4 linked regions of the Homo sapiens genome follow. The protein of the gene in region 2 purifies or fractionates together with the protein of the main gene of each other region. This does not show direct contact. Each region holds a gene or a part of one and is shown on either strand. Other genes may lie near its edges.

Region 1 (7,399 bases), on a different chromosome or scaffold from region 2:
AGTTATAAACATGGCAAGAGTTTGAAGGAAGCTACTGGAGCCTATTGATGGAAGTCTAACCTCTCATGGTACAGTTTGGGGAATGGTACCATTGATCAGGCAATGATTGCCAAATGCCCAAAGTTGGCATTCAGGCTAGTGATAGCTCCAGGTCTCCTGGTGTCCAAATGTTCCTTCTCTGCTCTCAGGGCCTTAGTTTTGTCATCTGTTAAGTGGATTGTTACGATGACAAGCAAGATGAGACATGGAGAATTCCAAATTCTGAATACAGAAGCAGGTCTGCAGGCTGATTAGTATAGTTATGTTTTGTCTGGCCCTAATCTCAGGAGTGGGGTCTACCATGTTTACATGTTTACCCTTGTTTCCAGGTGACTTCCAGGACCTCATCCTGAATGTAGTTGGGATGAGAAGATGATGTGACCTCCTGGTCTCCAGGCATCCATGACCTAACAGACTGCACTGTGTCAGGATTCAGCTATGCCTGGTGCAGCTGGACTAGGTCCCACTCTGGGTCTTATAAGGAAGGATCGACTTGTGTGTGGCCTCCAATGCAGTTTCACTTGTCTTCAAAGCCCTCCGCAGAATGTAAGTAAAAATCTGATCCTGGAATTGCCCTTGGCGAGGTGAGCAGCCAGGGGCCACACACAGAAAACAGTCTGTTCCTGGTGGCGTTCGGAAAGGCCAGTCACACTTGCCACCCCCGTTGTCATCGTCCCTAGCTTCAGAAAGCACTGGAGCCAGGTTGACATGCGGCCGATGAGTCTTTGTTCAACTTGAGCTCAGATGGACACAGAAACATGAGAGGAGCCAAGTCCTATGTTTAAACAGTTAAGAGGAAGCCAGGCTCAGTAAGGAACTACAACCCGGGATTTAGCCTGGTCCAATTTTCCTTCTCTGGGATTTCCTGTCCTTTTTTGTAGATGTTTCTATCTATCGAATGTTCCCTGGTCATTGGTTGAAGGCCATCAAGTCGGCGGTGAAAGTCTTACCCAGTACTTACACAGTACTTCAGCTTAGCTGCGAAAATATCAATGAGCTGCCGAACTGTGTGGACCCCAAGCCAGGCTGATGGGACACACGTGCCAGGCCTCTGTCCATCTGCCCTTCACGGTGGAAAAAGAGCCCAAACTTTAAGACTGGGCTTAAACAAAGCATCCACACAAAGAAGTCCAGCCTGCTACCCCAACAACTGCCAGGGGGGCAGGCCACATTGGGGTTGGTGGGGGACAGAAAACCGGTGGGTCTTTAAGGAATGCAAAAGAAGGGAACCCCAAAGGCCCCCTGCAATGTCCTCAGACTGCAGTTAAAATTTAACAAATTTTTAATGTAAATCATCTGGCATACTCAATTGCATGGGGTACACGGGATGGGTGGGGGTGAGGGGTGGCAGCAGGGAGGGAACAATGGCTAGGATTAGATAATTTACTTAGTGCTAAAATTCCAGGAAGTTTGTGTTGATCTGGGCCTGGATCTTGTTACTTTTTAGCTCAAATCTAAATCTTTATCTTCCTCTAAGAGTTGAGAGGACATTTATTACGTCGTCATTTTTACAGTTGTAATTTTTACTCCCTTTCATCAAATAGAGCTGGTTAGATTAGCAGCTCTTAGCACTGAGATGAAAATATTGGTAGGGCCCAATGGGTCCTGTTTTGTTTATTCTAACAGAGCAGGCTTTGATCTAGACATATTTCCTGGGGTCTGGACGAGATGACCTAATTCCTGTCTTATCCGTCTCTACTTTTCTGTGAATCTCAGATTGCGCTTTACTGTGGAGCCCTTTGAAATTCACTTTATACTTTTTTCCACTTTGTTACCCACTCTGACATTTGTTTCATTTGGGATGGAGTGTGTAACTCCTAGCAAATAATCCATTGCTTTATTTTTCTAACAGGACTGCTAAGTTTTAACAGAGTAGGAGCTTTTTTTTTTTTTTTTGCTCTCTCATTCTTGACATTCACGACATGCCAAAAACAATAAGCAAATAATCTACTGCTAGAAATTTATGTCAACTGCAAATCATTAAGAATTTTCTGTTTGAAGACATTTTTTTCTTGTAATTAAAAAAAAAAAATGCCCTCCCTCCACTCCCTAAAAAGCCATTTGAATAGACCTGGCCTGTGAAGATTGGGATGTAAAAACTCAAAGCGCAAAGCCAGCTTCAGGTATCTCCAGCTGATCTGCAGGACCCCTCCCTTACGCTACCCACCCTTCCCCAACCCAGACCGGGGGTGGGGGTGGGGGGGGAGGGAGGGAGGGAGGGGTCATCTCGAGCAGCTTGGGTTTGTCATTGGTTCTCTCTCTCTTTTTTTCCCCTCCCCAGGTCCCTGTCAATCACCAAACTGCTCTTCCAAGTATATTTTCCAGGAAGAAGGAAGCCCGTGGCGGGGGGGTGGGTGGAAAAGGGAGGGTAGTGGAGATGACGGGAGAAGGAAGAAAGAAAAAGCACGACGGAATATAAGGAAGGAAAGATAGAGAGAATGAGAGAATGACAGCTACCCAGGCAGAGAGGAAGAACAGGAAACGCAGTTCCTGGGGAGGGGTGGGGGGAACAAAAACAACAAAAAACCTCGAATAAACTACAAATTCCTAACGTTTGTAAATTTTGAGTGATAGACACAAAGCGTTTCTTAAATTCTTCTCTGGGCTGTTCTGTATTTTTACAATTCCCCCCTTTTTAAAAAAAAAAGCTGGGGAAACTGTCACCAAAGTGAATATTTTTAGCTAAACAATTCTGTGAACTTAGTTGCAGCAACAATCCTTCCTTAATTCAGTGAATTCGGTTCTCGGTGATTTCAATACCACCACGAGGCACCTCTAGTGAGGCGTAGCGGGGCAAGGGTCGGGGAGTAGGTGAGGAGGGGGTGCGCGCCCGTCAGCTGCCTTCACCTCAACCCTGTTGCTTTGTAAATGTAAATCCAGTTCTGTTCTGCGGGCCGAGCCCAAAGGCTGAGTGTATTTTTCACACTGGGAGGAGAAGCAGGGCAGAGGGCGATTTCTTATTTTGGAAATGGATGGAAAGGGGAATGAATGGGCAGGTAATAATCAATAGATTAGAAAGATAGTCAATCAATAAATGGATAGGCAGGGACAAAAGGAGACACAGAGAGAGAAAAAGAGAGAGAGAGAGAGAGAGGAGGGGGTTGGAGAGAAAGAGACGGAGAGACAGAGAGACCCTCTGACCTTTTCCTAAACTCTTCTGATGGCTCCGGAAAGAGAAGTGACTTTTGCTCCCCTTAACTCACTTTCAGAAACCGCTGGAAGGTGGGAGGTTAGTGATGAGAGGGAAAGGGAACACAGCGCCCCCGCTCCCCTCTCCCCACTGCCTGCCTCTTGGAAATGGACGCGCAGCCCAAGGTGGTGCAGGGCGGTGACCTTCGCGCCCGGCCCGGAGTGCGGGAGCCCCGGGGACTTGGCGGCGGCGGCCATTGGAGAGCGGGGTCCAGCTGCTGGCAGACGCTCGGTGGAAAGTGTCGCGGCGCAGCCCCTGGACACCTTTGGAGAGGGCCGGCGAGGCGCCGGGCATGTGCGGCAGGGTGGCGCTGTCGAAGCCTGCCCCTCTCGGTGGGCGGCAGCCCCCCGGATCACTTCCCTCAGATGTCCCCAGGCCCTGTCCCTGGGCGTAAAGGGCGCGCAGCCCGGGGCAGCCCCTCCTCGCCACGCCCAGCGATGGGAAGTTGTGGACGTCGTCTGTGCAACGGAAACAGCTCCATCTGGCCCGCGCAGAACCAGAGTTCTGGCTGGAACTCCGGCCTTCAATCCGTGTCCCCACTCTTGGGGAAAAAATGTCACTCCTGGAGCGGAGGGGACGGGACAGGAGAGAGGAGAGCGAGAAATCTGTCCCTCTAAATGTTCGGGTGCCAAGCCTTCGGGGTGATTCTCAGCATCAATCACGACGTCGCGCAACCCTCTCCCCTGCCCCCCCCGCCGCCCTCTCTGGCTTTGGGGGCTCCCACCCCCTCCCCTGAACTCTCCCGGCCCAGGTCAGCGCCCACCTTCTGGAACGCCGGACCCGGACCCGGACCCGGACCCGGAGGCCGAGCAGGGGTTGAGGGCGCCCCCTCGGCACAGAGTCTAACGACAGGGTCGGGGGAGTGCGGACCCGAGTGGCCCGCGCCCTGGTGGAAACTTCTGCAGGAAGCGGCCCGACGCTTTCTACCTTACCTGGGCACAACCGCCGGATGCGCGGTTCACCAGCTCCCTGAAACATTAAAAAAAAAAAAAAAATCGGCGACCCCTCTGGACACAGCTTCCCTTCAGTCCGTTTGCTCACCTCAAAACAGTGCTCAGGAGGAAGAAAGCCTGTTCCCCCCTCCGCCCCAGAACAACAGGGAGAGGGGAAGAATCCATTTGAATTTGCTTGATGAAATATTCAAGCTGACTCTACATAACCTTTCTAATAGACTTTTTCTTTCAAATATGCATGTGCGTTTAAATGCCTAAAAGACCAATTAAATAAAGAACATGTTGACCTCTCTGGGTTGAGGCCCAGTTTAAGTCAGATTATATAACCCCGCAGCATCAGGAACTCCCCAGCAATGTGGCTCTCAGCTGCCTGAAAAAACGTGACTGCATTAAGTGAAATAAAACCAGAATAGTAAAAGTGAAATCTAAATCGGCATAAATATCTTGCTTAAAAGAAACTTACCTGTTGGGTTAAAACCTCCAACAACATCTTTTTATGTCATTTCGTTGTTTTGCTTTTCTTGGGGGTGGGGTGGGTAGCGAGTGGAGTCTATAAAATCCATTCCTAAATAAATCATAGATACTGGGAAAATATCTAGGGCCTCCAAATTTCAAAATAAAAGAAAACGCAGGCCCATGCAAAGCCGTTTGTTATGCCTTTTACAATTCCTCATTTAAAGAGGGATACACACTCACATACACAATTGACTGCTGCCTGGGGAAATGTTAAAACGCATTTGGGGCCTGGCTAAATGGAAATGCACTCTAAAAACACAGACACAGTATTTTGTTTTATCTGTTGCAAAAAAAATGTATTTGATTACTTGAGTAAAATTACAGTATCTCTGTTGTTAGTAAGTATTAAATGTTAAAGAAATTGGACCCCCCCTTTCCTTTCAACTTTCCAAGAAAGTGCATGTAACAGTCCAATTTTTTTCTTCCATACCTAAGACAAAATAAACAAACACTATACCTGCTCTCTTGATCAAGAAGAAGCATTTGCTCTTGTAAGGAACATATGTACATTTGAATGAAAGTGATATTTCTTATTGTATATACAAGAGCATCTACATTTTCTCCACTGAAGGTTGTTCAAGATGCTATACTTAGCAGCATTGTGAAATTCCAGCACACATTTTCTATCGTGAATATACCTACAAGGCAAAATGTTACGTCTCAGTTTCAACTACCAAAACAACGCTTGTTTTCTTTTTCTCTAAAGAATTCTGCGTGCTTATTACTGTACAGAAACTTATTAACATTGAAGACGACTCAAGTAAAAAGCACAATACAAATAGCAGTTCAAAATGGAAATGGTTAAATCGACAAAAAAAAAGGTTGAATTTTAGAATAAAAATTAAAAAACCAAACCTTTCAAAGAACCACACTGTTCAGTCTGTACTTTCAGTCCTTTCCTTAAATCTGTTTTGAAAGATTAGACAATGTGTTTGCTGATAAAATTTTCCAGCAGGATCAAAGTGTACATGTATATACAGACTTTATTAGAGATCTAATGCATCACTGAGGCATTGCATCAACACCAGATTCATATTAAACTGGATATAGAAAATAAGTTAATGCCAGATTACAACTGCCTAGCAGGGCAACTTGCAATTGCCATAAATGTTACAGCAAGTTTACAGCACTCTAGTCAATTAGTATTTAGTCCAAAATACAGAAGACCAAAGTTAACGCTTGCATTCTGTTTGCAAAGCAAGGTTATATCGCTAATAAATAAGCTTTCTTAGAACTCTAAAGTTGAACAAGGTACAAAAGAATGTCTTCATAATGTTGTAGTTCATAGATCTGGGGAACAGAAGGAAGGGGCGGGGCGGGGTGGGGGGCAAGGAGTAGGAGGCCACCATAGGTCGCATTCTGAACAGGAATGAATGCTATGTCTCCAGCCCGAGCTGCTTTAACTCGTGACGATCTCCTTGCTGTCCTCCACGAAGCGGGTGAAGCGGAAGTTGGTTCCGTTCTCACTGCTTGCCATTTTCTCCAGGCCGGCCAGGGGAGCATTGGGCTCTGAGTTCTGGAGCCTCTCCAGGTTTCCCGTCAGCCCACTAACAGGTGAGCTGTTCCCACTGCCGAGGCTTCCAGGAATTGGAGGGATGCCACCGTTCTGAATGACGGAGATCTCGTTGGCCTTCATCGCCAGCCCGTTGGAGAGCGCTGCTGCATACTGATTCCAGAAGCTGGAAGGATCCCCACTTCCTGATCTTGCCGCCAAATCCTTCTGGAACATTTCTGGGAACTTGACGGGATTGCCTCCTAGAAATGTCATGGGGCCATCCACAGAGAGCCGCCGACCCCGTCGTGCAGGGGTGCTATTCCACATGTGAGTGCCCATGTGTACCTGAGATATGGGGAGGGCAGGCAGAGAGACAGAGAGAGAGAGAGAAAAAAAAGAGGAGGGGGAGAGAAGCTTAATAGCTGAATCTGTCTCAACTCATATCCCAAATGTCCACAAAGCAAGTGGCCTAAATGTCTATTCTCATCATGTGACAGACAGTGAAGGCAACAGGAACCATCCATTCCTCCTGTCTAGTAATAACGTGTTCACTCTCTGCAGCCCTGGGCTGTCTCCCCTCTTCCAAGGCAAGGATGCCTTACTTACTCTTTTTTTATTAACCATATTTAGCTTATAATGGCCTCAAGCAAGCCAGGCAGTGGCGGATAGCTCCTTTCAGGGTTAGAATTGTTAGGTCCACTCTCATTGCAATGGTAAGTATTGTATCTGACACCCTTTACCCTATAAATGTCCTTTTCAGATGGGGAGAAGGTATCCCTCCCTGATTGCCCATTGGAGGGCCTGCGTATGGAGAGAAAAGCCAGAAAGTAATTATTCATCTCACATTACTGGGAGCAATCTCCAGAGAAATACTCTGTCAACAGAAAAATGTACACACTAAGAGCACTCAACTGTTGCTCTAGAACTTAAGCATATTTGCTTTATTTCCAACACATATCAGTAGGAAATGCTGTATAATCAATTATCATAATACCCATTAGCAGAGCAGTGACGTTATTGTTTTTAGACAAACAAACCATGCTGGACTGCATAGTTATGAAAAATAGATACATACGCCGAGAACCCTAATTATTAAGTGATACGGGCAGCACACAGGCCACGTGGAGGTCTTTAATCAATACCCCATGGCAACGCTAGGCTTTCTTGGTAGGTAAAGCAATTCATTTGGTGCACTTAGCGAGACAA
Region 2 (8,004 bases):
ACAAGGCAAATTCAGTCTCCCACCTGCCTGGCCGCTTTGTGATCTCTCACTGAAGATGGGCCTCCAGCTCCGAGAAGACGCTCAGCAGAAAGGTGGAATCCCCAACTGACAGCCAGGCTGGCCGAGGACTGCAGGGTCCCAGCAGGTGGATCAAGCACCCACAAGCAGAGACTCTGGGCCATAATCTGCAAACAGAGCCTGCATCTCCCAGCCTTGCCCCACCTGGTCCCACACTCCTTGCAGGGGACAGGCCAGCCCCTCAGTGATCTCCAGTGCCTCAAGATCTCCGGTGCCTCAGTGCCATCCTTTAGAGGCCAGCTGTGGTTCTTTCTATACATCCCTGCTGCTGCTCCTGCTGACCTGGCACCTTCTCCCTTGGGGATGCCAGGCACAAGCTGCTGATCAGCTCTACATTTGATTTTCTTTCTTTTTTTTTTTCTAAGAGATGAGGTCTCACTACATTGCCCAGGGTGGTCTCTAACTCCTAGCCTCAAGTGATCCTCCTGCCTTGGCCTCCCAAAGCGCTAGGATTACAGGCATAAGCCACCACACCTGGCCCCCATATTCGAGCCTAATGTTCCTTTGGGAAACAACTGAGTAAAGAGGATGCCAACCCCCAAAAGAAACTGAAGATAACGTTCTGCCCAGTGGGACCGATGATCATGCTATAACACTCCTTTTGTCTCCAGGAAAAGCTGAAAGCAGCTCTAGCTAACCAACCCCCCTCTAAACCCCCTGACATACATACGGCTTCCAACTCCAGCAAGGGGGCCAACCAACCCACTCAAATCAAAACCAAAAACTAAATCATAACAGTAAAAATATGACCAGCAAACAACGAAAGAGGATATCTCTGGTCCCACAGTTTCCTACGGGAGACCAGATGGCTGATTTCTGGCATTCTCTGTCCTGGAGCCAGAAAATAACACAAATATACCCTTGGACTTAGGGTAGACACTGTGGGACCCAGAGCAAAGGACATCCTGGCCAAGCCTGGGGTCAGCTCAGGTCCCTGACCCTCTCCAAACTGGTCCCCCTTCTTCCCAGCCCCTTTTGTACCTCCCTGTCAGCCATCTACCAGGGTCAGGCCGTCATAGAGGGCTCGCTTCCACATGTAGTATGTGGAGCGGGCAGTGAGGGGAAAGAGGGCACTGAACTCCTTGTAGGAGGGAAAGCTCTTGGACTGGAAGCGCTTCTGCAAGAACAGCTTGGCCTGGGCCTTGAACTTCGTGGTAGCGATCATGTCCATCACCAGCATCCGGCCATCCCTGCCACCCGCTGCTGCCACCACAGGTTGGCTCAGCAAGGGCCCACTGTGGGGCTGGCCCTGGGCTGTGGCCCCCTCCTGCAGGGCCCCCTCTCTGGAAGGCCCTCCCTCTACATCTTCTGAAGAAGCCCCCACAGGTGGGGCCATCACAGCTGTCACATCCCTGCCAGCCTCCTTCTCCTGCTTCTCCTCAGCCTCCTGCCCCCCTTTGCCCAAGGTGGGGACCGGCACCTGAAGTTTGGACAGGCCTCTGGGCCAACCCCGAGCAAGACTCTTCCAGACCCAAAAGGCAGAAGGTGACAGGCTGGGGTAGCGGAGGCGGAAGCGGCAGAAAGGGAGATGCCCACTCAGCACCTGCCTGCGGGCAGCCCTGCGCAGACGCCTCTGCCAACGGGACAGGGGCATCCTTAGTGGCAGGAGCTCCCCGGGGGCGGGAGGGTCCTCACCTGTGGCATTCCCTGCCCCCTCTTCCGCCTCACTCTTCCAAGGAATTACAGCCCCTTCCCCAACAGATGCTAGCTGGGGAGTCCCAGCAGCAGAGAGGGCTGGTGCCGGCTTGAAGCTGGGGTTCCTCCGGAGGGCCTTTCGCCGCCAATTATAATAAGTGGACCGTGAGATGCCAGGGAACCTGCGTTTGAAGCAGCGATAGGGTACCAGTGTGTTCAGGGAGATGCAATGCTCCAGGTACAACTTGGCCCGCTGCATTAAGACCATTCCAGGGCTTGACACCGCCAGTGCGGAGCACTCCAGCTCCTCCTCAGCCACCTGCTCCTCCGGCAGCTTCTCTAGCTCCTCCATGCCCAGCACCTCCCTGGGGGGCAAGGCCGGGCAGGTGCCAGAGCCCAGCAGCTCATGCTTCCAGGCATAGTAGGTTGAGCGGGAGATCTCCGGGAACCGCTGGAGGAACTGCTGAAGTGGCACGACGCCCCCCCGGTGGAAGCTGTCCTGCAGGAAGTGCTTGGCGGAGAAGCGGGCAGCAACCTTCTGCCGGTGCTCCTGGGACTGCCGCCGCCAGCGGTAGAAGGTGCTTTTGGTGACGCTGTAGCGCTCACAGAGGTGAGAGTAGCTGAGGCCAGGTTCACGGTTGAGCAGCTCCAGGGTCTTGGCCGGCGATGAGAGTGGGGCCAGGGCTGGAAGAGCTGGGGCCACGCCAGGGGCACCTTCAGCCTCCACCTCTTCCAGCCCCACCACAGGGGCAAAGTACTGGTGGCGGAAGAAGTGGCTGGTGAGGGGCTGGCCAGCCCACATGATGTGCAGCGTGGAGGGCACGTGGTCGCAGCGGCGGGGCCGGATGACACGGTTGAAGTAGGGCCGGATCTTGAGGTTGCGCATGGGGTAGATGGAGTAGATGTTCCGCTGGAGGACAGAGGCGAGAGCATACAAGTGCCACACGTTGGAGAAGCTGCTGGGGAAACAGGAGGCCTTGACGTCGGCATCGAAGATGGCCTCCAGCGTGGCGGGGGGCAAGCTGGTCATCTCAGGGGACTCCTCAGAGCATAGGGAGTAGCGCACGGCCTGCAGCATCACTTTGGAGTCGATCATGCCCTGGAGGTAGTAGTGTCTGTGCAGCAGCATCTCTACCACGGTGCGGGCCCGCAGCTCCAGGCTGAGGCCTGCGTCACCCCACAGCAGCATGCTGGCCGCCTCGAACAGCAGGCTGCCCTCCCCCTTGCACACCAGCGGCAGCATGTTCCGTGGAGCATCTTCTGGATACAGGCTCAGGGCCACCGAGTCCACTTCCAGCACCTGGAGGCCAGGGCCTCCCTCCCGGCAGGTGGGGAGAGTGAAGGAAGACAGGACCTGCTTGGCCTCCAAGGAAGCACCTATGAGACCCTCCAGGCCTTCGCACTCCACTGCTTCCTGCAGCTCCTGCAGCACCTTCTGCACCAGCTGGTTCCGAGAAGTCATCCTGCCAGGGCAAAAGATAAAGGGGCAGTAGTCAGGTCGAAGTGCCCAGATGATGACTAGCAAAGGTGCCCTGTCCACTCCTGCACTTTCTCCCAAAAGGTAATGTCTATCTGCTCCCGTCCTCCCACAACAGACGGGATTGGTTCATCACTGAATGGTACTGAGGAAAAGTGTGGTCTCTAGAACCTGGCTTTGAATCCTGGCTCTGACATAAGCTTGGTCACCTTGGATCACTTAACCTCTCTATGCTTCTGTTCATTTTCTATAAAATGGGAATGGTGTGTTAAAATCTGCTTTATAGGCCAGGCACGGTGGCTTACACCTGTAATCCTAGCACTTTGGGAGGCCAAGGCAGATGAATCACTTGAGGGCAGGAGTTCGAGACCAGCCTGGCCAACATGGTGAAACCCCATCTCTACTAAAAATACAAAAATTTGCCAGGCATAGTGGCAAGAGCCTGTAATCCCAGCTACTCTGGAGGCTAGGGCAGAAGAATCACTTAAACCCAGGAGGCAGAGGTTGCAGTGAGCTGAGTTAGAGCCACTGCACTCCAGCCTGGGCAACAAAGTGAGACTGTCTCCAAAAGGGAAAAAAAAATTAATAAAATATGCTTGAGTTGTTCTGGGCATAAATGAGACAATAAAGAGATGTTGGCTGGGCGTGGTGGCTCATGCCTGTAATCTTAGCACTTTGGGAGGCTGAGGTGGGTGGACTGCTTGAGTCCAGGAGTTCAAGACCAGCCTGAGCAACATGGCAAAACCCCATCTCTACAAAAAATACAAAAATTAGCTGGGCACAGTGGCATGTGCCTATAGTCCCGGCTACTTGGGAGGCTGAGGCAGGAGGATCATCTGAGCCTGGGAATCCGAGGCTGCAGTGAGCAATGCTCGCACCACTGCACTCCAGCCAGGGTGACAGGAATGAGACTCTGTCTCAGAAAAAAAAAAAAAGAGAGAGGCCAGGTGCAGTGGCTCATGCACTTTGGGAGGCTGAGGCAGGCAGATCACTTAAGGTCAGGAGTTTGAGGCCAGCCTGGCCAACATAGTGAAACCCCATTGCTACTAAAAATACAAAAAAAAAAGTTAGCCAGGCATGGTGGAATGCACCTGTAATCTCAGCTACTCAGGAGGCTGAGGCACGAGAATCACTTGAACTTGGGAGGTGGAGGCCGCACTGAGTAGAGATCATGCCACTGTGCTCAAGCATGGGTGACAGACCGAGACTCTGTCTCAAATAAATAAATAAATGATGCTATTTTTTTTTTAAAGAAAAGAAAGAAAACCGTTATCCTTAAGTACATGTCGTTTTCAATACTGGGTGTAATCAAATGGGGCATACTTATAACACGCTTGCTGCAACCCGAGGTATGATGAATGTCTCCATTGGATGATTGTTCTGCTTTTCTGATAAATTAGCTCCCTTTAGCATGATATACAATTTTTACTTGAAAGAAAGTCTAATAGACACTGGTCATTCAGATTTGGATATATTTGGCAGATATTTTCTCAAAAATGAATGAAGTGAGACTGTAATTTCAAGGGAAACAACTATTTGCTGCCCATAAAAACTTATCAGCTTCCATCTGAAAATCTCAATTTTTCTGATGAGATCAGTGGTGACAATTTTTTTTTTTTTTTTTTTTGAGACTGAGTCTCGTTCTGTCACCCAGGCTGGAGTGCAGGGGCGCAATCTCAACTGGCTGCAACCTCTACCTCCCGGGTTCAAGAGATTTGCCTGCCTCAGCCACCCGAGTAGCTGGGATTACAGGCGCATGCCACCATGCCCAGCTAATTTTTGTAATTTTAGTAGAGACGGGGTTTCACCATGTTGGCCAGGCTGGTCTCAAACTCCTGACCTCAAATGATCTGCCCGCCTCAGGTTCCCAAAGTGCTGGGATTACAGGTGTGAGCCGTCACGCCCAGCCCTAACAAATATAATTTTTTATGCTGTATAATGAATTGTCAATTGTTTCCACTAAAGATCTACATCACTCAGTGAACATTTTCCAAATAGCCAATGGGTGCTGTTACAAAGTCATGCACTTGTAGAAGAATCATTCAAAGTATAAAAGAAACCCATGGGGCTGGGTGTGGTGGCTCACACCTGTAATCCCAGCACTTTGGGAGGCCGACACGGGCGGACCACGAGCTCAGGAGATCGAGACCATCCTGGCCAATGTGGTGAAACCCCGTCTCTACTAAAAATACAAAAATTAGCCAGGAGTGGCAGCACATGCCTGTGGTCCCAGCTACTCAGGAGGCTGAGGCAGGAGAATTGCTTGAACCCGGGAGGCAGAGGCTGCAGTGAGCCAAGATTGCATCACTGCACTCCACCCTGGGGACAGAGCGAGACTCCATCTCAAAAAAAAAAAAGACCCATGGATTTTAATATAACAGGGTACAAAAAGTTCATGGATATGGTTTCAAATTCCACATTATAACTAAGCTTTGAGAAGCTACTACTTGTAAAGTTTTGGTATAATATCAAAAAAATCCACTGAAAAAGTGATCAAAATACTCCTCCTTTTTCCATCTATATATCTGATGAAGTTAGATTTTCTTCAGATGCTTCCACCAAAACAATATATCAAAACAGATTGAATATAGAAAGATATGAGAAAGTACTCATCTTCTTTTAAACCAAATACTATGGAGATACAGAAAAATGTAAAATGTAAAAATGTAGAATAATGTGCTCTCGGACATTATTTAACATTTTTCCAAGTCTCCATAGTATCTGGTTTAAAAGAAGATAGGCCGAGGCAGGCAGATCACTTGAGGTCGGGAGTTCAAGACCAGCCTGGCTAACATGGTGAAACTCTGTCTCTACTAAAAATACAAAAATCCATCCTGGCTAGCATGGTGAAAGCCCGTCTCCACTAAAAATACAAAAAATTAGCCGGGCACGCTGGCGGGCGCCTCTAGTCCCAGCTACTCGGGAGGCTGAGGCAGGAGAATGGCGTGAACCCGGGAGGCGGAGCTTACAGTGAGCCAAGATCACGCCACTGCAGTCCAGCCTGGACGACAGAGTGAGACTCCATCTCAAAAAAAAAAAAGTAGTTTTTTTGCTCTGGAAATGTCACTTCTCATAAAAATGATTATTTGTTACTGTATAACAGGCTTTTTAAAATTTATTTCTTATTTTTAATTTTGTGTACAATATACACTGGTAGATATAACCTATATAAACAAAAGGTTTTCAGGGTCTGCAGACCGTACAGGAGTCCTGAAACCAAAAAGTTTGAGAAGTGCTGCCCCAGAAACAGCCTTTCAAAGGGGTAGCAACAATCTATTCACTGCACAAAGATCTAATAACTATGATTTACTGAGCATTTACTATTTGCCATGCACTGTCCTAATCCTGACACTAATACTTTAAGTACTACCATTATCCCCAATTTACAGGTGAGGAAACTGAGGCAACTGAAGTTAACCTAATTTGCCCAAGGTCACAATACAAGTTAGTTGAAACCAAACACTTTTTTTCTTTTTTTTTGAGACAGAATCTCACTCTATCACCCAGGCTGGGGTACAGTGGCTCATTCTTTGCTCACTACAACCTCCGCCCCCAGGGTTCAAGCGATTCTCCTGCCTCAACCTCCAGAGTAACTAGGACTGTAGGCACATGCCACCACGCCCAGCTTATGTTGTAGAGATGGGGTTTCACCATGTCCGACAGGGTGGTCTCATGGTCTCAAACTCCTGACCTCAGGTGATCCACCCACCTTGGCCTCCCAAAGTGCTGGGATTACAGGCGTGAGCCACCATGCCTGGCCCCAGATGCTCTTTAGGGTCTGTGATTCATCTCCTGTTCAAACCATTAACCACCTTTTAACACAAAACTAATCATCTCAATTATTGGTATGTTTTTATTGTTCAGTTGCAAAGCAGAGTGGTATTCCTTCATAGACACTTTTTACATTAGGGGAGGGACCATTATCCTTTCTGGTTTCTCAGATCATGTTCTCAAATTAAACTTGTTCTCAGAGTTCAATAAATTGCTTTAGATGACCCTTAGGTTTAAAAATGGTGTTTGGGTATATACATTTTTCAGATCAAACTGTACGCTTAAGGCCAGGCGTGGTGGCACACGCCTATAATCCCAGCACTTTGGGAGGCTGAGGCAGGAAGATTACTTGAGCATAGTTCGAGGTTACAGTGAGCTATGATCACGCCACCGGACTTCAGCCTGAGCAACAGAGGAGACTGTCCCCAAAAAGCAAAACAAAACAAAAAAGCTACATTTGAAAGGAGTGGATGAATGCAAATTGTAATTTAGTAAAAATGTTTTAAAAAATTAAAAGTAGGGCTGGGGCGCAGTGGCTCACACCTGTAATCCCAGCACTTTGGGAGGCTGAGGCAGGTGGATCACGAGATCAGGAGTTCATGACCAGCCTGGCCAAGATGGTGAAACCCCATCTCTACTAAAAATGCAAAAATTAGCCAGGTGCAGTGGCAGGTGCCTGTTATCCCAGCTACTCGGGAGGCCGAGGCAGAAGAATTGGTTGAACCTGGGCAGCAGAGGTTGCAGTGAGCCGAGATCGCCCACCGCACTCCAGCCTGGGTGACAGAGTGAGACTCCATCTCAAAAATAAAAAATAAAACATAAATAAAAAAAATTAAAAGTACTGAGGCCGGGCATGGTGGTGGCTCAGGCCTGTAATCCCAGCACTTTGGGAGGACGAGGCAGGCGGATCACAAGGTCAAGAGATCAAGACCATCCTGGACAACATGGTGAAACCCTGTGTCTACTAAAAATACAAAAAAAAAATAATTAGCTGGGCATGGTGGCCCGCGCCTGTAGTCCCAGCTACTCGGGAGGCTGAGGCA
Region 3 (8,004 bases), on a different chromosome or scaffold from region 2:
TAGAGCATTCCTGGATCCTACCAATGTACCATGTTGCTACTAGACTCATCCTCTCAAAATCTTCTTTCAGTGATTCCAGAGGACATTATATATCCTGTACCAGGAAATCCATAAATCCTATTCTAAAAGTGCCAAAGTCAGGCACTGTCCAAGTTCACACTCTCGAATGCAAGTTCTCCGTTCTTTGGAATGTTTACCATTAACTGTGAAGTGATCAAGACCGTTTCCGTTCTGTGGCTCTTTCTGCCCAAGAGCCCTGGTTCTTGGAAACAACGTGAAGTCTTCGGGCTCTCCTGGACTATGGGTCTCTGGCAGAAATTCACCACATACTCAGAATCAATTCTCTAACACAAAGTTCCCCAGAAGAAAGTAACAGGCAGTTCTACAAGATAATGAAATCGCAGAGTTCTCTATTAGGAGAGCTTAGAGGAGAGCTGGCGCTTCAATCCTCTCCTGCCTGGAACCCATCTTTTCCCCTTAATGTCTTGGCCAGAGGGCAGTCTCTTTCTCCAGCTTCTATCTGTCAGTTCACATCCCTGCATTATCTACCTCTTTACCTCCCCTACACAAAAGCAAAGGCACACCCCATCACCGCCAGTGCTGGCCTCCTGGCCTCCTGGCCTCTCCCTACTCCCTCCGGACCACCACTGCCACAAAAAACTTCACCATGACATCCAGCTCTGACCAGGCTGTGTGCAAATATCTTAATCTATCTTCAAAAAGACAGGGTGCCATGCAAATGAAAATAAGTTCTAAACTTCCTCCTCCACAGGCTATGGAGATCCCTGGGGGGTTCTGGGTACACCCAGGGGCTGGTGGGGTGGCGCCTGAGATGGCTTTGTCCTTAGAGCAATTCAGCCCAGTCTCATATTTTAAGAACAGCGGGAACGTAATATCAGCTGAAAGGAGTTTTCTGTGTGCTATTTAACTAAATGGCTCTGCAGCTGGGGAGAGCCATAGGCAGACGTGTTATGATTCAAAGGCTCCCAATTACAATGATCCTCTTTTATTGTATAAAAACAGCAACACAGCCATTCTCCACCCTCCCTCCGCCTGCTTCCTCCACCCCCTTCCCCCATTGGCTGGCGAGGCCACTCTGCATCCTGAAAGGAGCACCCAGATTCTCCTCCGGCTCCAACTTTGCAGCTTTCAGCCCACGGGGATTCCTTCTCTCCAGATCCGAGGAGGAGAGGGCGGAGGGCGCAATGCCCCTGGAGAATGTTCTCTTGGAGACACTGATAGAGGCTTTACAATGGCCTCTTTTTGAGGAGGGGTGGTTTGGGGGAGCTGTAGATAACAGAGGCGGATTTGTAATTCTCTCCTGTTTTGACTAAACTCTCATACGCACACGTGCACACACACTCATGCAGGAAGGCATGCACCCCTATGCCCCTTATCAGAAAAGCAATCAGACTATCCCAAAGCACGATCTAAAACCGTCCCTTCTCCTCACACCTCTTCCAGGCTGATGTGGGCCAGGCTTCCAGAAGACTTACGTACAATAACAGAAAGCTCTGGAATCAGACTGAGCTGAGTTTGAATTCTGTCTTTGCTACCTTCTTTCTGTGACCTTGAATAAGTACTTAACCCCTCTGAGCTTTCGTTTCCTATCTTTTTTTATTTTTTATTATTTTGAGACAGAGTCTTGCTCTCTCACTCAGGCTGGAGTGCAGTGACGTGATCATGGCTTACTGCAGCCTTGACCTCCCGGGCTCAAGCGATCCTCCTGCCTTAGCCTCCCAAGTAGCTGGGACTACAGGTGTGTGTCACCACGCCCAGTTCATTTTTTAGTTTTTTAAATTTTTTGTAGAGATGGGGTTTCACCATGTTGTCCAGGCTGGCCTTGAATTCCTGAGCTCAAGCGATCCACCTGCCTCGGCCTCCCAAAGTGCTGGGATTACAGGCGTGAGCCATCAAGCTAGCCCATTTTTCCTACCTTTTAAGTGGAATTACACTGCCACTCTCAATTTACTCCTCAGGGTCAGATTAAATGACATTGTGAAGGGAAAGTGTTTAGCAGAGTGCCTAGCACATAGTAGGTGCTTACTTTTTCTGTGGCTATTGCTGTTCTTAACATGGTGAACACCATGTGCTTGTGCTGTGTCTGGGTATGTGGGGAGCTTTGTGCATCTGGTTGTGTAGGGAGCTTTGTATTTGCTCAGTTTCACCAGCCAGAGTGAACCAGGCTGTGGGGGATGAGATGGCTGTGGGGGCATAAATGTCAGGCCTGCTGAGGAGTGTTTTTCTTGAGTGTTTCTGCAACACTGGTTTAAACGGTCACCTCTGCACAGCATATGCAGGCATGCATGAGTGCCTGCCACTTCCTCCTTAACTTAGACTTGTGGTCCTTCCTCAGTTTTCTGCAGATGTTTTTGAGCCCAGCAGCTGCAGTTGCAGGCATCCAACCAGGACAAGGAGGGGCTGTAGCCCAGGAACTCTCATTCATAACCCTCTTCCTCTCTGCCTCAATAGCAGGCTCCTTCTCTGTCTCTCACAAGTGGCCCCTGGGCCCCCAACAGGGAAGATTTCCTCCCAAAGAAAGAGCTAACTCAATTTGGCTACTCCCCGAAGCCCCAGAGATCCATGAATCTATTCCCTGACCCTGAACTTGACAGGAAATGGTCCCCAGGATTTTGCTGATTTCTCTCTGAAAGATAAACTCAGCGTGGGCTTCCCGCTATTCCATCCCAAACTAGACATGTGCACCCCTAAAATATATCACAAATCTCTTACACCACAGTGAATGCCTGGCTCACATTCCTTCATATTGACCCCTCATGGATCAATAGCACAAGAATTTCATTCACTGCAGATTCTGTTATGTGTTAAATACCATTGCAGTGAAACAATGTGTAACAAGATTAATCTCCACTAAGTGTTTCTAATGTTAGGGAGTAAGGGGGAGAGAAAGAGGAAGAAAGGGTGTGAACTGTGACTTTTAACAGGTAAATATTGTCTACCAGGGGGGAAAGAGAGGTATCAGCAAGAAGACAGGTTCTGGCCCTGGTGTCTCTATTCCATTTTAAAGTTTGGGTGGAAATTGATATACTGTTGTCAGGACTGTTTTTCTGCATGGGGTCTGTTTTACACACACACACACACACACACACACCACTGCCAATCAACCCCTCTTAACTGCATGATTACAAGTGTAAGAACAGGAAGCAGACTGTGGGTGGATGTTCTTAAAATCACAACCTGCTCAATGTAGGGTGGGGGCATTAGAGAAGGGTGGGGGAGGGGAATCACGAGTTTTTTCAGTTCAAAATGAAATAATCTTGTCAATACAGAAAATAATGTCTACCTTATTGTCTACCAAAGGGGCATGTGCACAGCCAAGCATCCTTCCTGAGATGTGCTGTCTGGATGTGGCTATGACACAGCACATTACGGTACCTCATGTGCTGGTACCGTACGTGTGGTACCTGATGTGTGGTACGGACTTGCCACAAAATGAGTGCATGTGTGTACTGGGGGTGGGGGGAGGCAGAAGGGGAATGGCAATGAGATGGGACAGTCAGGGTCCTGGGATTGATGATGAAATCCACACATGCTAATTACTTGGCACCTCAAATTTACAATAAAGTCACTTTCTTGAGGTGGTTGCAGTGATGACGGTGATTTGTTGAGCACAGTTCACATGTGAGGTGTGTGCTAAGCCTTTTTACAACTTTCTTAAGTTTCCTAACAACTCATACAGCAGCTACTAAAGTGATCTCCATTTCAGAGATAAGAAAATTGAGGTAAGTAACAGCTCAAAGTCATAAAGGTAATACCCTGAGCAAAGAGAATCAGAGAGGCTGGCCCTTGCTGGAGGAATCTAGCCTGGGGAATCTGGTGCTGGGAAGGCCTCTGACATGCTCTGATATCATCTCCTTGATTTAAAGCAATGGTGAAGGTCATGGCCAAAGGTATCCTGCTGATGAGTGGTGGAGCTGCAGCTAGGGCCCAGGAGACCCAAAGGTCAGGAAAAAGGCAAGTGTAGTGTTTGGAGAGTAAATGGCACCCCCTTCCAGCTTTTCCAGTCCCACTAACTGAATTATCCAGAAAGGAGAGCTGATTGCCTCCCTGTAACAGCTGACTCACATCAGGTTAAGTTTGGATTCTTATTGACAGGACCTAAAAGCAAATCATCCCTCACTTCTTTATTGTACATGGTCTTCTCTTTGCCCTGAGGCAAAACTGTTCCCTGGCCTGAAACTTTGCAGAACTCGTTTTATTGCAAATAAGAACTAAGCTCGTTTGTCTGCACAAGGTACTCTGCTGTCAGTCTTAGTCTTCCCTTCCCCAAACACGTGACCTTCAGAAACCTGCCATAGCTCCCTAGTACCTAGAGATTAAAAGCCAGCCTCCTCCATGTGCACCCCCAAGCCTGGCATCATCTCTTTGCACAGCCTTCCCTGCATCCCCCTCTCCACCTCCCCAGGGTACCTGTCCACTGCTCCCAGGGCCCTTCTTTCTCAGGCGGCACATGCCCTCCCTGCCAACTCAACAACCATTCCTCCTTTCACCCCGTCTGCCTTACAAGTTGAACCCCAATTTGCTCATGACAGCAATGGGTCCAACTAAAAATACTTGACTGCTCTTCCCTGGCAGTAGTCACCATGTGGCACAGCTCTGGTCAATGAGCTAAAGACAGAAGTCCCTGAGAGGGGTGCCCCTTCCCAGATATAGCAGTGAAGCTGTACTGGGTAAAAGCTCTTTGAGACTCATTCATCCTTTTTTCTCTTTCTTGGAATGCAAACCTGAGGCCTAGAGACGTAGCAGCCACTTTCCTACCATGAGATGATAAACCTAAGGCCAAAGGCCTCCACTCTAAGCATGGCAGTGTAGAAAGAAGTAGTCTGGGTTCCCAATGGTACAGCTGAGGCATCATCTCCCTTTACCCCTCACCCCGTTGTTGTCTGACACAAAAAAGTCCCTATCTGGTTAAGTCACTGGTAGTCAAGAGTCTGCTGCTAGCAGCCGAATGCAGTGATATTGGCTACACCTCTGGACATTGTTCCTCTTCATTCATGGGGCAGTTCAGCTGCTCCCACCTCTAGGAGATCCTCTGTGATCCCCTCAGAGCAGAAGAATCATGCCTTTCCTTGTGCTTCCACAGTGGTTAGTTTTCTCAATCATAGCACTTATCTAAGCCTGCTTGATTTGGTTTAATGAGTGCTTCCCCGCAGTCGGCTCAAACTCCTAGAGGGCAGGGGGTGTGTATCCCACCAGCATCTCCATAATGTCTGGAGCATGCAGTGCTTTGCGTTTCTGCCAGGGGGGCTCTGTCTCCCCAGCATTTCCATACATCTGGTTATGCGCTCTGCATTGCAACAGCAGAGTGTGTGTGTTCTGGGGGCTGCCACTCCGCTTACTAGCTGTTTGGACTTGGGCAAGTTAGCTAACTTACCTGGGCTTGTGCCTCCTCATCTAGAAAAAGGAGAGAATGAGAGTACTTACATCAGAGTTGTCATGAAGACAAAATAGTCTAGTCATAAGCACTTGGGATAGTGCCTGGCATACAAAAATGCTTAATGGCTATGGGTTCTTATTAGTATAATGAACATTATAGTTGCTGAATGAATAAATAAATCAACACACAGTTGCTAAATAAATGAATAAAGGAATAAAATCCAGGTAAATTCTGAAGTTCGGACCTCAGGACAGTGGCTACTGTTCCCTCTTTTCTGCTGGACCTGACCCTTTACTTTTTTATTCTAACTGTGACGTCGTGTATCTGAATGCTGCTACAATGGACTGGTTAAGGCTATGAAGTTAGGCCTGGATTTGCTTTTTGCTGTGTCGCTCAGGCAAGTTTCTTCACCTCTTGGAGCCTCTGTTTCCTCAACCATAAACGGAGGATAATAGTAGTACTTAGCTCACAGGATTGTGGTGAGAATTAAATGATAAAGCACGTAAAATATACAGCATTGTGCCTCACACACCATAACAGTGTTAGAAACTGTTATCAAACATTGCCATGATTATTTTTGATAAGTGTACAGCATCCCACCAAATCACATGGTCCTGATGTGGATGAGAAACGCCGGGTGGGGCCACCTTTCAGCATGTCAAGATACACTGCACTTACATCACAGGAATACCCTTTCTTCAGTGCCAACAAACAGTGGTGTTTTCCCCCTTCAAATGGACATTAGTTGAGATAGCTGATGTGCCCCAGAATCTTGGTTTCTTGCATTTTCCCCTGAAGCACAATCTTCAGGTGCATCCTTTAGCTGACAGCAAACCTGGCTAGAAGGAAAGGTACAAGTGCGCAAGAGAACAATCGCGGAGCAGAGCATTTAAACAGCGATGATATTTCCACACATCACCAGTCCAATTATTGTCAGTGACACATTTCAGCCTTACTTGTAGATTTTTTCCCTTCTGGCCTTAAAAGAAGCTGTGTATACAGCTTTACATAACTTTCCCTTTAAACTTAAACCTTTATGGTAGTCCCATTCAACCACTTGACAGCTCCATTAATCTATTTTTACTATTAAACATGCCATTTTACAAGATATTTATTCCACTTGGTCGTCATCCAAACGCTTTTTGACATTACTGCCCTGGGAGTGAACTGCTTAAACTCGCTGCCCTCATAAACAGAAAATCACCTTTTGACTCAAATCTTGAAGAGCTCTCAGAACCTCACCCCCTTCACTTCTACAGGCATTAATTTCTGCCATATATAAAGGAGAGAGTGAGTAAGTGTGTGTGTGTGTGGTTTTAAGAGGGTAATTGTGGGAGGTCTGGGCAATTCAAGAAGTGCTGGGGGAAGGAATCCTCTCCTCTAACTCCATTCTGCTCATCGGGGCCTGCCTGAGACCTGGAGATCTGGTAACTTAACAGAGAGAAAGTGATCAGAGAGCAGGTTGGGGAAGAACTCCAGGGCCTAAAAGGCAGTGTCCCAGGGGGCCAAGCTGAGCAACCACTCTTTAAAAGGGGAGGGGTCGAGGGAAAGTCCTTATTCATCGACTTCTCTCCTTCTCCACGCCCCAGACAAACAAAAGGCCACCGCGAAACAGTTGAAGGTAGAGACCTACTGGCTTTGAAGACTATCAATCAGGTGGAAACCTGAACAAATCACAATTTGGCTTCCTCATCAAGTTTTCTCCCCAGCCTGACAAACCCTCCTCCGCCGCCGCCTCCACCTCCTCCTCCGCCTCCCAGGCTCAGCACAGCTACGAGGCCAAAGGGACCGTCCTGTGATGCCTGCTGGTTTCCAACTTTCCGCTCATCTTCGTCTCCGCAGCCTCCTGCAAAGCGGCTGGGAAAAGGGCAAGTTTGCAAAGCCGAGGATACAAGTCCTGGGGAAGCCACAAAGAAGCTGCAACACCAACAAAGATTAACCTCTTGTGGGGCAGACGAAAAGCGCCAGCTGCCGTTCAGGGGGGCGAACGTGGGCTCGGGCTGGCAGAGGCTCCGGCCAGCTGGCAGCGGACAGCAGGGCCGGGGGTCCCGCGGCCGCCCTCGGCCCCCCGCCCCGCGCGGACTCCCCCTGCACCTGAGCGGGGGTGAGGACAGCGCCGCGCTCCGGCCCTGCCCCCGCCAGGTAGCTCGGCTGCCGCCCGCGCTGCGCGCCCGCTGCCTGCAGCCGCCGGGAGCGACGAGAGCAGAGGCAGCCTCGGCCCACGGCGTCATGCTTCCTGCCACCACATTACGGCGAATCGTCACCGGGAGAGGGGAGCGAGGGGAGAGGGGGAGGGAGGGGAGCAGACACACGCAGCCCCCCGCCTGCCAAAACGCGCGGAGACGGGGCCACGTCCCGGTGGAGTCCCCGCGGGACCTGCCCCGTTTGCACAAAGCGCCGCAGTTTGGCCAAGAAGGGAGGGAGACGGCCACGAAATAAATAAATAAAAACAGTCGGGTCTACGTAACGCCCTGTCGAAAGCGGACGCCATATTTTTTTGTGGCTTATGTCGACATAGGGAAACGTAGACATGTTTTTCCTCCTCCTCCTCCTCCTCCTCGCTCTGGCTCCCATTTATCCAAACTTGTAATCAAAACTCTTAAAAA
Region 4 (8,745 bases), on a different chromosome or scaffold from region 2:
ATATTTAAAAGTTATGCTTCTTGAAACTATCTTGCAGCACTGAAAGATGGTGCATATCCTCATTAGAAGTGAAAAAGATTTTTATTGTACTTAAATAAAAGCTGGTGCCAATACTTTTAAGAATGCTAAATTCCAACTAATGGTCAGCACACAGAATAGAAACCCTGGTTGTGCTTTTGCTGAATTCCCCCCAAAAGAAAATATTCTTAGGGCTACCTGGAAATGAATGGTACAGCTTCTTAGAGATTGCAGTTGGAAATGAAATTTGACCCACTTTTACCATCATCTTGTATACAAAAAAGAATCAGCTTGCTAAGTAATTCCTGCTGTTACTCCATACCTTTTTCTGGCTTTGAACAACAGATCTAAAAATATTGGATAATGCATATGCCATGGAAGTTGAAAACGTACTGCACATAAAATTCGAGAACTGTTACATAATCAGCTCTCTCTCTCTGCAAGCTGGGAATTAATTGGTATGCTTTTTTGTTGATCACAGAAACGTGCACTTTTAAATAGGTTAAGTTTTTTAATGTTGTTTTTAAAAGAAATGTTGGCAAAGTCTTCTTTTCCTCTCCCCTCACCCAACCCGGTTACTTACTTTTTACCTTTCATGTTTCAGAGAAAGCAATCTGCCTGTGAATGTTAGAAAGTAGCTCCTGCATTGTTCCTTTTGGTATGCTGAATTGTAAATGTGTGTAGTGTGCTGGGGGAGCACTGAGGGCAAACCATGCATATACAGATAAAAGAAAAAGATCCTGCGCCAAGCACTGGTGGCCGAGCTTCTTTCCCTTAATTCAAACACAGTCTGTGAAAACCACTGGTAAATTCTTAAATCACATGCTCAACACATTTAAAAGGATTTTTAAGACAGCCATATACTTCTAAGTTGGCAGAAAAAAAAACACACTTTGAAGCAATTAGTGCTAACAAACAAAATACAGGATGGTAAATGGTTTTAAATTATAATACCCTTTTGTTCCTTCTTAAATACATATTTTCTAACAACAACAAAATACATCTTTCTTAAATTATATTTTATACAATAAAGAATAGCAGTATTGTATCTTTTAAAGTTCTTAGTGGGCATATAACTGTCATTGGAAGTTTTAATTAATTTTTCTTAGAACAAAAATATTCAGCTGGCTCACAGGATTACTAGTGGCGCAAAGTTCACTGGATCCTAAAGCTGCAGCGCCTTTCTTCTAAAATAGGAATGAGATCATTTGCAAGTAAGTAATTTTAAAAAGCAATTTCTGTTAGGAATGTCTCAATGACTTAATTTTTTTTTTTAACAAAAGCATGACTTTAGAACTTTACATAAATTATCCTTACTTTTTCTCATTCTAGACACGTCATGTTTCATTCCTGTAGTGGTAAGGTTTGGGTAGCACCAGTTATTTTTGTATAGAATCTTTTCATTGCTTCAAAAATAAATCATAATTCTTTTTTAAGAGATACAGGCTTTGTGCTGTAAATTAATGTGAGTGCATCTCTGTCCCCCATTATACTAAACATTTTTGCATAGAATATTTGTTCTGCAGGACATTATCAGTAGCTTTCCATTTTACTGCATGTAGATGGACCTGCTGCTTTAATTAATATGTCACTCCCCGAGTGATACAAAGGAATTATTTACCTCGTTTCTAAAACACTAAACTAACTGAGCTCACTTGCAACTTCCGGCACGGTCTGTTTATTTCCATTGCATTTAACAAAATTAAAATTTTGAGGAGATCTGACTCAGGTTGGAGTAATTTGGTTTCCACACCCATTTACCTTTTTATAATTTTTACTTAGTTATCTTAGGAACGATGCTGAGTGCGACCGAGTAATACACAAATGGGGCATTCCTTGACTTAACACGGAACAGAGTGTCTGTTATGCTCCTTGAACAAGCTGCTTCGAATATAATTAAATGAGAAAGAACTTAAAAAAAATAGTTTGCCTAAACTCTCTCAAACAAGCATGTGAGCTGCTCGACCAAGACTCGGCCCCACACAGGGTATTTTGGGCCTCTTGCAAAACATGACCAGGAACTGTGGCAACGTCTGGATTACAATTCTGGATGCTGTGAAAAACACAGGCTTGACAAGAACTTCAATTCTACCACGGGTAAAAAACCTGAATATTTTGCATCTCTAAATAAATTCGAGCAGCAACAAGAGGGATTCAAAGTAGAACTTGTGAATAATTTATCCCATCTTAGGCTTTCAAATATAGGCGATATAGCCCTCCACACGTTTACACTATTAAGTTCAGCATGCTCACATTTCTGAAGTGAAATTAAAAATGAATAGCAGTGCCTCAGCTTGTTAATTGTTAAATACCAGGGGGTTTACTCTATTAATTAAAATATGCTTTAATAAAAGGAGACATCGCACATTTTGATACCGACCCTACAAAGCTGAGAAGTATTTACATTGTTGCATTTTGGGGCGGCTGTGAAAGCCGATTTTAAGCCATTCAGGAGCCACAATAATAAAGCTTTAAAATTCCTCACTGGGACGCAATGTAGTTCTTTTGAAGGAAAGACTGTCTTTCTCATTCGGCAGAAATAAATCCATTCATTTGATCATGTAGTCATTGAGGGCGATACAAAACAAACCAAGTGTGAGAAATTCTATGTGATGAAGTAAACAAAACAAAAAAAAATCCATTTCCATGACAAAAAGATTCTTTGTCCTTAATCTACCCACCATATGCAAGCGTTTCTTTTTAGCATATCGCCTGTTCTCATCTTGGCTGACTTGGCTACACAGATAAGACTCCCTTACCTCCACCGCAACAAAAAGACCCCAGCGAGCTCACTAATTTTATTTAATTCATTAATTCTCCAGCCGCGTCATAAGCATGCTCTCTCGTTCTCATCCGACATGGGTGTCTACCCGCTTTGTCAAACTTTACTCCACTGTGTGGGAAACTCTTCCGCCCCGTTTCCTTTTCGCAGACAGTCTCATTCTCAGAGTAAAAAGATCACCATCTGCCTCCAACAACTTATAACAGGTCAATCATAAAAGTTGGCCTGCCTGTTTTTTTAAGGAGCAAATTATTTTACTGCGAGCTGTGCTGCGGGCTCGGGGTCGTGGGGTCGCCCCTCCTCGGCCCTCTTTCCTGGCGCCCTGGGGGCCCCGCGGGGCGCGCCGAAGCCCGGGCGCCGCCGGCCGAGGTTTTGACTCGACGAAGGGGGTGGGGGCGCCCCAAACTTTGCGGGGCTAAGGCGCCACTCTGGGAAGTCCAGCCCTTTGCCAGTCTCTTAACTTTCGCGGCGCCTGCCCTTTGCTCTTGGATGTTTCGAAGAGGACGCTCCTACCAGCGAAATGACTGCAAAGCCGAGGTCTCCAGCGCCCGGCCTCGGCGGATCCAAAAAGACGGGAGAGAAAAGGCCCGCGCAGACGCTGCAACGAACGCCCCGGAAACACGCCGCGAGCAGGGGCCAGGCCCAGGCCGCCGCCGCTGCGCTCACCCCCAGCTTAATTCCCCGGGCGGCCATTAGGCAGAGCCAAGCCCCCGACCTTCTCCTCGCCTCGCGAGGGATCACAGGCTGCGTCAACGCGCTGGGACACCGCGGGTCACCCGAGGCGGTGCGGGGGCCCGGGAGGGGCCGCGGGCCCCCGAACAAAGCTGGCCGGGCGGCGGGGTCCCCAACCCGCGTCCAGCGGTAGGTGGGCTGCGGTCGCCTTCCCCGCCGCCGCCGGCCTCAGCGTCCTGGCGCAGAGACCCTGGGGGGCGGCGCGGCGGCGGAGGCACCGTGGACTCCCTCCCGCCCCGGCCTCCGAGCCGTCCTCGAGCCGGCCGCGGCCTCGGCGCCCTTCGCGGGCAGCTCCCCGACTCCGAGGAGAGGAGCCAAGTTTACTTCGCCCACAACTCTCTCGGCGGCCGCGCGCGCTCCGGCGAAGTACCCGGGGCCCCGCGGCCGGCCTGGCGCGGGGCGGACGCTTGCCCGCAGGAAGCAGGGAACTTTCTCCCGCTCCCGGACGCGCGCATCCGCTCCCGCCGCACGCGCTTCCCCAGCCCGGACGGGCAGCCCCAGACCCCCCGGCCACCCCGCAGCCCCGGCCCTCACCGTGCTCGGGAGCCCCGTCAGGCGGCAGCAGCTCCTCGTCCGACTTGAGGTGCTGGGGCTTGGCCTGCTTGCGCCGAGACATGCTGCTAGCGGCGCTCGGGCCCCGCGCGGGGCAGCGGCATCAGCGGGGCGGCCGGCGGGGACGGCGCGGGGCGGCCTGGCGGGCGCGCGGCGCGGGGCGCGGGGCGGCGGCGGCTGCGCGGGCCGCGCATGGGGCTGAGCAATTAGGCTGGTGAATAATGCATGGCCATTAGCGGAGGGCCGCGCCGATTGGCCGGGCTCCAGCGGACTCCGGCGGCCTATGCAAATGAGGCCGCGCTCGCAATTAGCGGCCGCGCCGACGAGGAGGGGGCCGCGGCGCCTCGGGACCGGGGCGCGCGCTGCCCGGCGCCGCCTCACATCGCGGGCTCCGGCGCCGCGCTCCTCGGCCGCCCCGGGTGCGGCTGTGGCGGGGCCCGGGTGCGGCGCGGGCCGCGGTGGCCGTCCCTCCGCAGGGCGCAGGCAGCAAACTTTGGCGGCGTCCGCGCGGCGCCGTCTCCGCCGGCGCGCCGGGCTCGCCCCTTTATAGAGTGTCTGCGCCGCCGCCCGCGCCCCCCCCGCCGCCGCCGCCGGGCGGCCCCTCCCGGAGCGAGCGGCCGCGGGCAGGGCTCCGACCCGGCGCCTTTGTCTCGCCCGGGCCGCTCGGGCGCCGCGCCTCCTGTTCCGGGCGCGCGGGGTCGGCCGGCCGCCTTCGCTGCTCCGCCGCGGCTCTCAGCGCCGCTCAGCGCGGCGGGCCCGCCCGGGCTCAGGTGCCCCCCGCTCTCCGGACCTTCTCGCCCGGCCCCGCGTCCCCTCCGCGGGCTTCCCCCGGCGGCCGGCCGGGCTCGGAGGCTCGCGGCCGGAGCGGAGCGGAGTGCGCACGCCGGGGTGGCAGGACTTCGGCAAGACCAACTTTCCGGTTCGGAAGCGGCGCGGGCCGCGCGGCTCCTCCCCTCCTCTCCCTCCCCTGCGTTCCCCCTCCCTTCCACTCCCCCCTCTCCCCGCCCCCCAACCCGCGGGCCCCACCGACTCCGGAGCGCCCGCCCCGCCCGCTGCTGCCACCGGGCCGCCTCGCCCCCGCGCCAGCCCGCCTGGGCCTCTGCGCCGCCGGCGGCTTCTTAAATACAGGAAAGGGAGGGGACCGCAGGGCCCCGGTGTTCCCCACCCTAGTCCCCCTTCACCACGGGCCACCGGGCGCCAGCGGAGTGGGCAGCGAGCGCGACCGAAAGTTCCAACTCCACCAAACTCCCGCGCGCGGCCCACCCTTTCCCGGGATTTCGGGGATGACACGGGGGCCAGGTGAGGGGGCTGCGCACTTCTGGATCGGCCCCACACACTCGGCCCCTGGCGCGGCGCGCTCCCCGCACACGCGCCCGCCCCCTCCCCGCGGTCACACGCACGCGCCCTCGCCCTCGCCCCGCGCGCACAGGCGCGTACTCCCACCCGCGGCCGTGCACCCGCCGCGCTCCTTCCCGCGCGTGTCCTCTCTCCCCGAGCGGCCGCCAGGATGTGCCCCCGGCCCCGTCGTCGCCGCGCCCGCGCCCCTCGCCCCAGTACGTCTTTTTTCGTTTCCTAAATTTCTTATTTTTGTCCTTGCAAGTGGTCCTGTCTGGTGTGAACCGTCAGCACAGATGGCCTCCTGGAGCTTCCCCGAGTCGTTCGCTGGGGGAAGCGGGCGGTGAGCGGCCAGCCCGGGCGCTCCGCAGGCCGCGAGCTCCCGGCAGGGCTGGTGGCGGGGGTCCGCCTGGGGGAGGAATCCCCGCCTGCTCCATCGGACCCGGCCTGGCGCGGCTCGCGGCGCTCGGCGGGCTCCCTTCCATTCTAGAATCTTCCCGCTTGCTTCCCAGCCCGCGTTCTTCCGCCTGCCTTTAATTGTGTAAGTTTGACGAAGTCAGAGCTTTGGGTTCCAGGAAAAGCGCAGGAGGGTCATAGAGGAAGGGAGGGCGCAGGTTGGAGTCAGGTCCAAACAGTCCCTATCGCCACTTTTGAAAAAAAAAAAAAACAACAAAAACCCTTAAGGTTGGTTTTATTTTGCCTTTTGGTAGCGGGCGTATTCATTTAGATTTTTTTTTCAAGACAGGCAAATAAAAGGTGTTTGAAATCTCTAGTTATCCCGTTTAACACACCCATCGATGGCGCTTTTCTAGTTAAGCTACGGGGGAAACGTCTTTATCCCGCAGTTAGGCTGCGAACTTGTGCAGATGCTCAGGCTTTGTGGAGACGCTCCGGCATCTGGCGCAGAGGCGCCCGGCGGGGAAAAGTTTGCAGCCCGGGCTTTGGGGCGCGCGGGGGGCAGGAATTTTTCTGAGAAGAGAGGGGCATAGAGAGGCGGCGCGGGTGGGGAGAGAAAAAAGGAACGCAGGGGGGAGGGGGAAAAGCAGCTTGCAGGATGGGAGTTTCTTGCAGAATTTACAGGATTAAGGAGTTTGGGGAAGTCGCAGAGCTGCAGCGGAAAGGCAGGGGTCTGAGACTACTTTTGAGAAGAGAAACAACGCAAAACGATCGCTGGAGGGCCAGAGCCCTGGTCGAAGGTGCCCTAGCTTTTATGACCTGGTTAATTGTGTCTCCTTTTTATTTTTATTTTTTTCCTTACCACTACTACTACTACTACTTTTATTTTTTTTTAACCGATACACTTTGGAGAGAAGAAGCAGACACAGGTTCCCACGGCGTCTGACGCCTGCGGAGCAAGTCCAGAGCCAGCTGGACTCGCAGCCTCTGGCCCGGCGGCACCAACTCCTCACTGGGTCATTTTGAGCGCGCTGTGCCCACCTTTTCTGTTGCGTAAGGCCCGCTCCCCCTGTCCCGCAACCCTCTCTCCAACAAACCGGCACGATGTCTTTAGGTCTTTCTGGGGCTTCCAAATGCAACTGTTTAATTTCATCGATCTGTTTTGCATTTCCTACAAGGTGTGGACGTGGGGAGGATCTTCTAAGTCCCTCCAACGAAGGCAAGTGTGAGACTCTGGCCCTTTATTTGTAAGAAGCAAGCCTTCAGATTGCAGAAGTGTCGCGCGGGTCGCCGTGCGTTGCGCGAGTGGGAAGATGGAGGAGGCCGGCACGCTGCTTTCGTGGACGCAAGTGAACCGGGCGTGAAGGCAGGGTGCGAGCTCTGCCCTTGGCCCAGCCCTGCGTGGGCGCCGTCCCAGATTCCGGGCGGTGCGGGGTGCAGAGATCTGGAGAGACTTGCGGGCTCCCCAGCGCAGGCTGCTCTGGGATTTCGTTGGAAGATCCGGCAGAGCCTTGGAGGAGAGGGCCCGGGAGGCTGTGTGTGCAGCGGAAACTTGTACGAATGCCCCCACAGCGGAAATGGTGCGCACGAGTAATTTCTGCGGTGCACCCTTTTAAAAATTGACAAGTGAACAAGATCAATTTTTTAAGAAAGCAAAGGTAGAAAACAAAAGGCGTGCGACTTCTTGACTGGCTTGTTCCCGCCTTTCTTCCTTCTCTATACTCAGATCAGAAACTTTTCTTTAATTGCTCTTATTCAGTGCGACAACTTTTAATAAAAGCATTTGCATTTTAAGCCTGAGTTGCAACCATAGATTTATTGCGAAGTGACAACGTGTCTATGGAATATTTTCGCAGATGAGACAGGACATGCGCTCTAGTCGTGCCCAGATTAAAGCGACGCTGGGCCATGTGCCTGTGTAGTGCAGACTCGGAGGGGCACACACATACTCGTCACCACATGACCACTGTCTATTAATATTGTCATACCTAAACACTCGCAAAAACAAAAGTTGCTTTTCTTCCCTGTAATTAAATCTAATTTGTTAATTGTCTTTCCTCTTGCAATGTTGTTTTCATCTTGAGGTGACACATTATTATTTTGTCTAATATTATTTACAAATTAATGCTGTATATTTTACATTAGTGAAACATATAATTAGGTGTTTGGTTCAATCGGTATCATTCAGATAAAACAAAGCCTATCTGCAAGATTGATTGGAAGTGGAGTAGTTGGTTCTAATTTACCATCACAGTCACAGTTTATTGAAGCTACCTGGCCCCAGATTCACAGAAGCTAGTTTTACCTAAGGTGCATTTGATGCTTTGTTTACAAGTGTTTATTTTCCCCAACCACTTAATGCAAAAAAAAAAAAACACCTTCAAATATTAGGGCTTTCATTTCATTTTCTGTCTTCTTTCATTCCTCCCCCCACCCAAAGTTCCTTTCTTCTATTCTCTGGCCACCTCTCTCCGTTTCCTCCCCTACCCCCAACTTTTGTTTTAGGTTCTTAGAGTTAAATTCAGCATGATTTGGTGCCTCTAATGCTGTGACAAGTGACTGCTAATTGGTTCTCACTTGAGCAAAGATATTACCATACTAATATTATTATTGGTAAGAAGAGGTAATTGATAACACCACCTGCCACTCTGGGGCAATCAGGATGATAAATGTTTCCATCAACAGGAAATCTGTGCTTGGTGTGCCACAGCCCAACGCAAACAGCATGTCAAGTGCCAATTATAAAGATGTTGCTTTTCTATTACATTGGGTGGGGGTGTAGGAAACATGTAGCCAAAAATTATATTTATGGTTTTTTGAAAACGCTTTTTCCAATCCTCTGTTTGCCTACTTGAAGATAACTTTCCCCGTAAAAATAAAATGCTCTAAGTAAATAAACCAGCACATAGCTAACTGCCCTGTCCACACTG

What was found.
Region 1: the proteins of VRTN (region 2) and SALL1 purify together in Homo sapiens (affinity purification with mass spectrometry; one large-scale study listed by BioGRID and IntAct). This does not show direct contact.
Region 3: the proteins of VRTN (region 2) and ZHX2 purify together in Homo sapiens (affinity purification with mass spectrometry; one large-scale study listed by BioGRID and IntAct). This does not show direct contact.
Region 4: the proteins of VRTN (region 2) and SALL3 purify together in Homo sapiens (affinity purification with mass spectrometry; one large-scale study listed by BioGRID and IntAct). This does not show direct contact.

Annotation. Positions count from the first base shown.
Region 1 is NC_000016.10:51,131,015-51,138,413, forward strand, and holds the end of SALL1 (sal-like protein 1), read right to left. Parts: intron 6,539-7,399; coding exon 6,098-6,538; 3' UTR 4,968-6,097; downstream 1-4,967. Other genes in the region: uncharacterized protein LOC105371253, read right to left, coding at 3,187-3,791, 4,162-4,207. UniProt on the Homo sapiens protein: Transcriptional repressor involved in organogenesis. Plays an essential role in ureteric bud invasion during kidney development.
Region 2 is NC_000014.9:74,351,955-74,359,958, reverse strand, and holds part of VRTN (vertnin), read right to left. Parts: intron 3,177-8,004; 5' UTR 3,176-3,176; coding exon 1,067-3,175; 3' UTR 1-1,066. UniProt on the Homo sapiens protein: Acts as a transcription factor that regulates development of thoracic vertebrae.
Region 3 is NC_000008.11:122,782,197-122,790,200, reverse strand, and holds part of ZHX2 (zinc fingers and homeoboxes protein 2), read right to left. Parts: intron 7,316-8,004; exon of another isoform or gene 7,032-7,315; intron 1-7,031. UniProt on the Homo sapiens protein: Acts as a transcriptional repressor. Represses the promoter activity of the CDC25C gene stimulated by NFYA.
Region 4 is NC_000018.10:78,975,678-78,984,422, reverse strand, and holds the start of SALL3 (sal-like protein 3), read right to left. Parts: upstream 4,606-8,745; 5' UTR 4,149-4,605; coding exon 4,067-4,148; intron 1-4,066. UniProt on the Homo sapiens protein: Probable transcription factor.